2 linked regions of the Homo sapiens genome follow. The protein of the gene in region 2 interacts with the protein of the main gene of each other region in a pairwise test. Each region holds a gene or a part of one and is shown on either strand. Other genes may lie near its edges. The genes, in order: GTF2H5 and ANKRD29.

Region 1 (3,811 bases), on a different chromosome or scaffold from region 2:
CTGCTGCCATCTCACTATGTCCCAGAGGGCAAAGTGGAAAGGATTGCGGTGGGTAGGTGGGGGAGGGTGGTGGGTAGGAGATGGTGAACAGGGCCATAGATCATGAAAATGCAAGAGACAGAGATAGCTTGGGAGTCTGTGGTTTATTGGGTGACTGAAAAAAAGGAAAAATCGGCATATAAGGCTTAATGAGAATGAGGATCTCCGGGATGACACTGACATGCAACTGAATGGCAACAACAGCTGGTGACAGGAGGATGAATGGGGTATTTTACAAACAGAGCATAATGGTCACTGATTTAAGCAGATACAAAAAAATGTTAAACTTCACATTTTCAGCAATTCTCTAATTTGAGTATTATACAGAATAAGAATTTAAATGAAAAGATTTTCTAGAACAGTAAGACACTGTACACTGAGAAATTTCAGAGGTAAACAATTGATTAATTATTGACAAAGAGCACAGGTGGAAACATAAAATAGAAAAAAGCTTGAAGAGCAATTCTAGAAGGAACGTGGGGTTGATGAAGCAGGTTAAACAGGGTGCTTCCCGATGATATTGCAGAAAGGAAAATGAGGCCTATAGGACAGAGAAACCAAAGTTTCAGTTTCTTGAAAACCATTGTTTTTCTACTCAGACTCTTTAAAAATTTAGTTGTTTCCCTCAAATCTTCCTTGCACATACAAATAAAGGTAGAAGGGGAGGGACTGGTGGGGAGAATAAAAGGAGAGTAATTCAACAGTAGACAGGTATGATGGCTGGGGAGGGGAGAGTCAGACAAAAACCTGGACTTCAGTGCTCTACAATTAAGCTTTCCTTGCAAACAAGGGAGGACTCATATGACCGTGGTGCCCACTTCACTCTCCAGGCCCCACAAGTACTTCAATATATTCTATAAAAATCATAGAGGTTTCTTAGTATACACTTTACACAATGGGATTGTAAACCAAAAATAAAGTTCTAAGCACCCCACCCCCCATCTGCCAACTGACTGATGGACCCTCCCCTTGGCTAAGGGCATTCCAAAGTTAACCTGAAAAACTAGTTCAGGCCATGATGGGAATGGGGGTTGGGCATGCCTCATACCCACCTCCCTTTGAATTCAGGCATAGCTGACCAGTATTAACATTAAAACAGAGATCTTGGCCGGGTGCGGTGGCTCACGCCTGTAATCCCAGCACTTTGGGAGGCCGAGGCAGGCGGATCACGAGGTCAGGAAATCAAGACCATCCTGGATAACACGGTGAAACCCCATCTCTACTAAAAATACAAAAATTAGCCAGATGTGGTGGCAGGCACCTGTAGTCCCAGCTACTCGGGAGGCTGAGGCAGGAGAATGGCATGAACCTGGGAGGCGGAGCTTGCAGTGAGCCAAGATCGCGCCACTGAACTCCAGCCTGTGCAACAGAGCGAGACTCCATTTCAAACAAACAAACAAAAAAACAGAGATCTTAAGACCCAGGTAACAGACTTTTTGTAGGAATAAAACACCAAATTCCAGCTTGACTTTTGTAAAGCATCACATGGCAGATGGCAGGCCCTGAAAGAAATTGTATTTTACACCAAAATATGTTTCTTTGACATATTTTGAGACGGCCCTGCAAAGCTGTCTCTTGTGGGAATAATCGACTCTGTAGAGACTCTCCATTCCTTTCCAGGTCTTTTCCCTGATCCAGGGGAGTCTGGCACCTTTTTAGGTCTGATAAGAGCTCTGGGCCAGGTGCGGTGGCTCACATCTGTAATCCCAGCACTTTGGGAGGCTGAGGTGGGTGGATCACCTGAGGTCAGGAGTTCGAGACCAGCCTGGCCAACATGATGAAACCCCGTCTCTACAAAAAAATACAAAAATTAGCCGGGCGTGGTGGCAGGCGCTTGTAATACTACCTACTCAGGAGGCTGAGGAAGGAGAATCGCTTGAACCCAGGAGGTGAGGGGTGTAGTGGGCCGAGATCACACCATTGCACTCCAGCCTGGGAGACAAGAGGGAGACTTCGTCTAATAAGAACAAAACAAAACAAAACACAAAACAAAACACAAAACAAAACAAAAACAACTCTGAAGCCTGCTACCTGGAGACTTCATCTGCGTGATAAAACCTTGGTCTCCACAGCTCTTTACCTTAACCCACACATTCCTTTCTATTGATTCCAGGTCTTTAGATAATAACTCTTTCAATCAACTGCCAATAAGAAAATCTTTGAATCTACCTATGACCGGGAAGCCCGCCCCCCATTCCCCTTGCTTTGAGTTGTCCTGCCTTTCCAGACTGAACCAATGTACATCTTACATGTATTGATTGATATTTTGTCTCCCTAAAATGTGTAAAACCAAGCTGTAGCCCGAACACCTTGGGCACAAGTTGTCTGGACCTTCTGAGGATATGTCATGGGCATGTCCTTAACCTTGGCAAAATAAACTTCAAAATTGATTGAGACTTGTCTCAGATACTTTTTGATTTACAGGACCAACAGTTGTTTTGTGTTAGCCCTTTAAAATAAACTTTGGATCCAAATGTAACAGTAATAAAAGACAAACTGGACATTGAAACATTGCTGTCTGCATGTGATAGATTAACTTGTTACAGTTTGAGCTCAGTACATTCAGATGACACCAATTTATTCTCAGTAACTGGCTACTACTAACAGGTATTAAAGGCAGCAAGAGTTAAGTGGTTATGAAGACTTTGGGAATTTTCTAAATGGAATAAATTTACATCATCTTAATGAAGTCAGAGCTAAACCACTAAAACCAAGAAGCGCCTCAGGACTCATATCTGTGCTGAATCATCACACCAATGCTTTCAAAATGTTTGCCATTTGTATACCATCCTTGCTATTTTAGCCATCTCTTGTAACATCTCTGTTGCAAATCACTTAATATTTTTCTTTAAATTGCCTTTAAATCAACTAACGTTTCATCTGGCATAAAACCAAGAGTTTGATATGTCAGTTTCCTCTTCTCCTCAAATAAATTAAACTGGTCATATAAAAAATTTTTTTGCTCTCTTTATTTTTTTTGAGACAGAGTCTCACCGTCACCCAGGCTGGAGGGCAGTAGGCGTCATCACGGCTCACTGCAGCCTTGACCTCCTGGGCTCAGATGATTCTCCCACCTCAGCCTTCCCAGTAGCTGGGACTACAGGCACATGTCACTGCACCCAGATTTTTTTTGTATTTTTTTGTAGAGATAGGGTTCTGTTATGTCGAACTCCTGGACTCAAGCAACCCACCCGCCTCGGCCTCCAAAAGTGTTGGGATTACAGTTGTGAGCCATTGAGCCTGGCCTATTTTTCTATTCTACTCCCCCAAAATGTATGTTCTTCAAATCATCTTGAACACTAATGGTATTCCGCACACTTGGGGAAATATGCTAACTGACAAATGAGACAGCTTAGAGGAATGACTGGCCAGTGAACACTGAAATAACGCTTTAATATCAATCGCTTCAAACTTTTTTTTTTTTTTTTTTTGAGACAGGGCCTCACTCTGTTGCCTAGGCTGGAGTGCAGTGGCACAATCCCAATTCACTGCAGCCTCAACCTCCTAGGGATGAGGTAATCCTCCCACCTCAGCCTCCTGACTAACTGGGTCTACAGGCGCACGCCACCATGCCTGGCTAATTTTTGTATTTTTTGTAGAAATGGGGTTTCACCACATTGCTCAGGCTGGTCTTGAACTCCTGGGCTTGGGCGATCCTCCAGCCTCGGCTTCCCAGTGTTGGGATTACAGGCGTGTGCCACCGTGTCTGGCATGCCTCAAACTTTTGAAAGACAATTTGAGATTGAATTTTCAAGCATGTACCTGAAGTAAA
Region 2 (4,308 bases):
TCGGCCAGGCGCGGTGGCCCACGCCTATAATCCCAGCACTCTGGGAGCCCGAGGCAGGCAGATTACCTGAGGTCAGGAGTTCAAGACCAGCCTGGCCAACATGGTGAAACCCCGTCTCTACTAAAAATGCAAAAATTAGCCGGGCGTGGTGGCACATGCCTGTAATCCCAGCTACTCGGGGGGCTGAGGCAGGAGAATTGCTTGAGCCCGGGAGGCAGAAGTTGCAGTGAGCTGAGATCATGCCATTGCACTCCAGCCTGGCTGACAGAGTGAGACTCTGTCTCAAAAAAATAAATAAAATAAATAAATAAAAATGACTGCATCACTTCATACTCCTACCAGCAATGCATGCAGATTCAATTTCTCCACATCCTTGCCAACATTCGTCATTGTCTTGCTGATTAAAGCCATCCTAGCGGGTATGAAGTGGTATCTCATTACAGTTTTGTATTTGCATTTCCAAGACCATGGCTAATAATGTTAAGCATCTTTTCAGGTGCTTACGGGCCATTTGTAAACTTCTTGGGAGAAATGTCTATTCATATGTCCACTTTAAAATTAGGCTTTATTTGTCTTTTTATTGTTGAAGTGCCTATCATCATTTAAAGATGCTCAAGTCTCTACCATTTTAAAGCAAACAAACACTTGGTCAATTCCAGATCCTTGCTGCAGCCACTGCCTTTTAAAAAGAATCTCTGGGTTGGGTGCCGTGGCTCATGCCTCTAATCCCAGCACTTTGGGAGGCTGAGGCGGGCGATCACGTGAGGTCAGGAGTTCGAGACCAGGCTGGCCAACATGGCGAAACCCCGTCTCTACTAAAATTACAAAAAATTAGCTGGGCTTGGTGTCAGGCACCTGTAATCCCAGCTACTCAGGAGGCTGAGCCAGGAGAATCGCTTGAACCCGAGAGGCAGAGGTTGCAGTGAGCCAAGATTGCGCCACTGCACTCTAGCCTGGGTGACAAGAGCAAGACTTTGTCCAAACAAACAAACAAACTAACAAAAATCTGTTTCTTGCAGAATTTCTTGAAAGAGTTCTCCACACTTGTGGATTCTACCCACTCTCTTTCAAGCTATTGCAATCTGGCTCCTGATCCTAACACCACTGAAAGTGCTCTTGGCAAGGTCACCAGTGCCTATTCCGTCACTAAATCCAATGGACTTTTCAATTCTTTGTTTATTTGATTTCCCTGTGGCATTAATAAACATCAAGGTCCTCTTCATCTTTGTTGAAAGATTAGAGATGCTTGGTGTAAGTGACAGCACATGCTTCTGAGTTTTCTCATTCGTCTCTGGCTGCTCTTTCTCAAATCTTCTTCAAGATTTTGTCCTCAGTCCTCTTATTTTCCACCTTTATATGGTTCCACTGGGCAATCATGTTCATTCCCATGGGTGCCTACTTAACACTGCTGACTCCTAAATCTCATCTCTAGCTGCTGCCCAGACTTGCCTCCTGGGATCGAGGAGAGTATATCTGTCTAATCAACATCTCTGCTTGGATTCCCATCTATCCTCAAAATTTATCCCAAACCAAACGTTTTATCTTTATCTCTCTTGCCTTCCCTACTGAATTATGCCGATTTAAAACTTTTAAAGTCGGCCGGGCGTAGTGGCTCACGCCTTTAACCCCAGCACTTTGGGAGGCCAAGGAGGGTGGATCACCTGAGGTCAGGAGTTCGAGACCAGCCTCGCCAACATGGCAGAACCCCGTCTCTACTAAAAATACGAAAAAATTAGCTGGGCATGGTGGCGCACGCCTGTAATCCCAGCTACTCTGGAGGGTAAGGAAGGAGAAATAGCTTGAACCCGGGAGGCGGAAGTTGCAGTGAGCTGAGATCACACCATTGCACTCCAGCCTGGGCAACAAGAGCAAAACTCCGTCTCAGGAAAAAAAACTTTAAAGTCATTCACATTCGTCTGCTTCGTTCCATTCTCACCACCTATGCACTGGTCCAGTACCATTTCTTAAAAAGATGACAACATCTTCCAGCTCCAACCCTCTTCTCCAAACCTAGCCAGAGATCTTTGCAACATGCACATCTCGCCATGTCACTCCTCTGCTTACATGAGCTATTGTCGGCAACGGGATTACAGTGGCTTAGGAGTCAGACACACTTGGGTTTCAGTCTTAACACCATAACTTATTGGCTGCAAAACCGTGGGTGAGTTAATTTCTCTATATCTTAGTTTTCTCATTTGAAAAAAAAAAAAAAAAGAGCCACGAAGAGCACCTCCCACAGGTCTCCCCCAGGGTTGAGACCATACACACCATGTCCTTGGTTCAGAGTCAGGCACATTTGAACTGTTTAATACATTTTAACTGCTATTTTTATTAAACCCTTTCAATCGAGGCAAATCAACCTCTTTCATCCTAAAATGTGGGGATTAGATGGAATGACTTTAATCAACTCTTTTGAGACAAGACACCTTTGGACCCTGAAGCCTCCCTGGGTGCTGGCCACCCCTCCGGGGAGGAGGCATCCGTGGGTGCAGCTGGTACTCCTGCATGAGGACCCAGAGGGTCAGGGTCGGGGACTCCTTCTGCTGCAGGACAGCGCTGACCCCAGGCTTCTTACCCGCCCCCGACCTGTTACCCGGCGACAGTCCCCGCCGCCCCGTCGCCGGGCACAGACTCAGCCGATCCACAGCCATGAGTGCGAAGCCTCTCAGGCAGGGCAGGCAGGCAAACCGCAAACCCACAGGGCGCACCCAGCCCCGCCGCTTCCTCCCGGGCCTCGCCCGCAGCTGGAGGAGAGAGGAAGGAGGAGGCGGCGGGCAGCGGGCAGCGCCCACCCCATCCCACCCCATCCCACCCCACCCGACCCCGCGGGCCCGGCCGCCCGAGCCCGGCCCCAGCCCTGACCCCGGAGTCCCGGTCGCTCACCTTGAAGGACATCCTGCACATGTCCGCGGCCGCCCGAGCGGGAGCCGGCGCGCTTTGGGCCCGGGGCGCCTTGTCCTCCCCGGCCCTTCACTCTCCCGGGGCTCTCGGCGTTCCGCAGAGGGGCGGCCTCCGACGCCGCGCGCTCCCGCCGCCCGGCCCGGCAGCAGCCGCCGCACACAGGGCCGGGCCGAAGGGGCGGCGCGGGGGCGCGCGCGCGCGCACACTACACATGGGGTGTCGCGTGGACGCGCTCCAGGACCTGCCACACACGCGCGTGCACAAACACCCCAAACTCCGCACGCACTGTGCACTTTCCACACACGTCCACACTTCCACACTCACTCGTCCACACACACACTCCAAACTCCACACACATTGTGCATACGCTCCACATTCCACACACACAGAGGTTCCACACACATACTTTCCACACTCACGCCCACTCACCCGCATGTACTCACACACAAACTCCATACATATCCTCCCAAATAGACTGGTCTGCCCCAGAGGACTCCCAACCTTCATTACAGCACAAATATTATAATGATGTAAAAATGAAGCTTGAGGAAAAAATTCATCCAATAGCTATTTTCGTTATAATTTCTTTCTCGGTTTCCTGGGAAACTTTTTTCTCCTGGGGAAAATATCTAGGAAACAAACCTTTTGATTGCACAAACAATAAGTGGTCTTTTCCTCTTTGAAGGGCAAAGGCCAATTTTGGAATAGACTCATACCCCTCCTCCTCCTCCGCGTTATTAATCCAGCAGTTCCCTCCTCCTCTGGGTCTGATGCTGCAGCCCTGGAGTATTGCAGTATGTGTGTCCACTCCTGCTGCCTGCCCAGGATTGGTTTGGGCGAAGTAAAACTGGGAGTTTTAAGTATAAACGGCAACAACAGCTCTTTGAGAGCATTTTAGAAAAGTGAAAGTAAAAAAGTAGCCCAGGCATAGTGGCTCACGCCTATAATCCCAACTCTTTGGGAGGCCAAAGGCGGGCAGATCACTTGAGTCCAGGAGTTCGAGATCAGACTGGCCAACATGGCAAAACTCTATCTCTACTAAAAATACAAAAATTAGCCAGGCGTGGTGGTGCGCACCTGTAGTCCCAGCTACTCGGGAGGCTGAGGTGGGAGGATCGCTTGAACCTGGGAGGTTGAGGCTGCAGTGAGCCAAGATTCGGTCACTGCACTCCAGCCTGGGCAACAGAGCAAGACTCTGCCTCAAAAATAAAAATAAAAACAAAACAAAAAAATAGTATAAAAATGGAGGTCTTACCCCCTCAAACTATAAGAATCCACTCATTCATTCTCCCCCTCCTTCCCTCTTCTCAATTAAATTTGTAACGAATATTTAATTTAAAAGGTAGAAAACAATTACAAATAAAAGTTAATGATAAAAATTAAAATGTTTAACCTTCATGGATAAAT

What was found.
Region 1: the proteins of ANKRD29 (region 2) and GTF2H5 interact in binary tests that used the Homo sapiens proteins (3 or more experiments, as listed by UniProt).

What each region holds. Positions count from the first base shown.
Region 1 is NC_000006.12:158,185,200-158,189,010, reverse strand, and holds part of GTF2H5 (general transcription factor IIH subunit 5), read right to left. Parts: intron 1-3,811. UniProt on the Homo sapiens protein: Component of the general transcription and DNA repair factor IIH (TFIIH) core complex, which is involved in general and transcription-coupled nucleotide excision repair (NER) of damaged DNA and, when complexed to CAK, in RNA transcription by RNA polymerase II.
Region 2 is NC_000018.10:23,659,827-23,664,134, forward strand, and holds the start of ANKRD29 (ankyrin repeat domain-containing protein 29), read right to left. Parts: upstream 3,086-4,308; 5' UTR 2,905-3,085; coding exon 2,884-2,904; intron 1-2,883.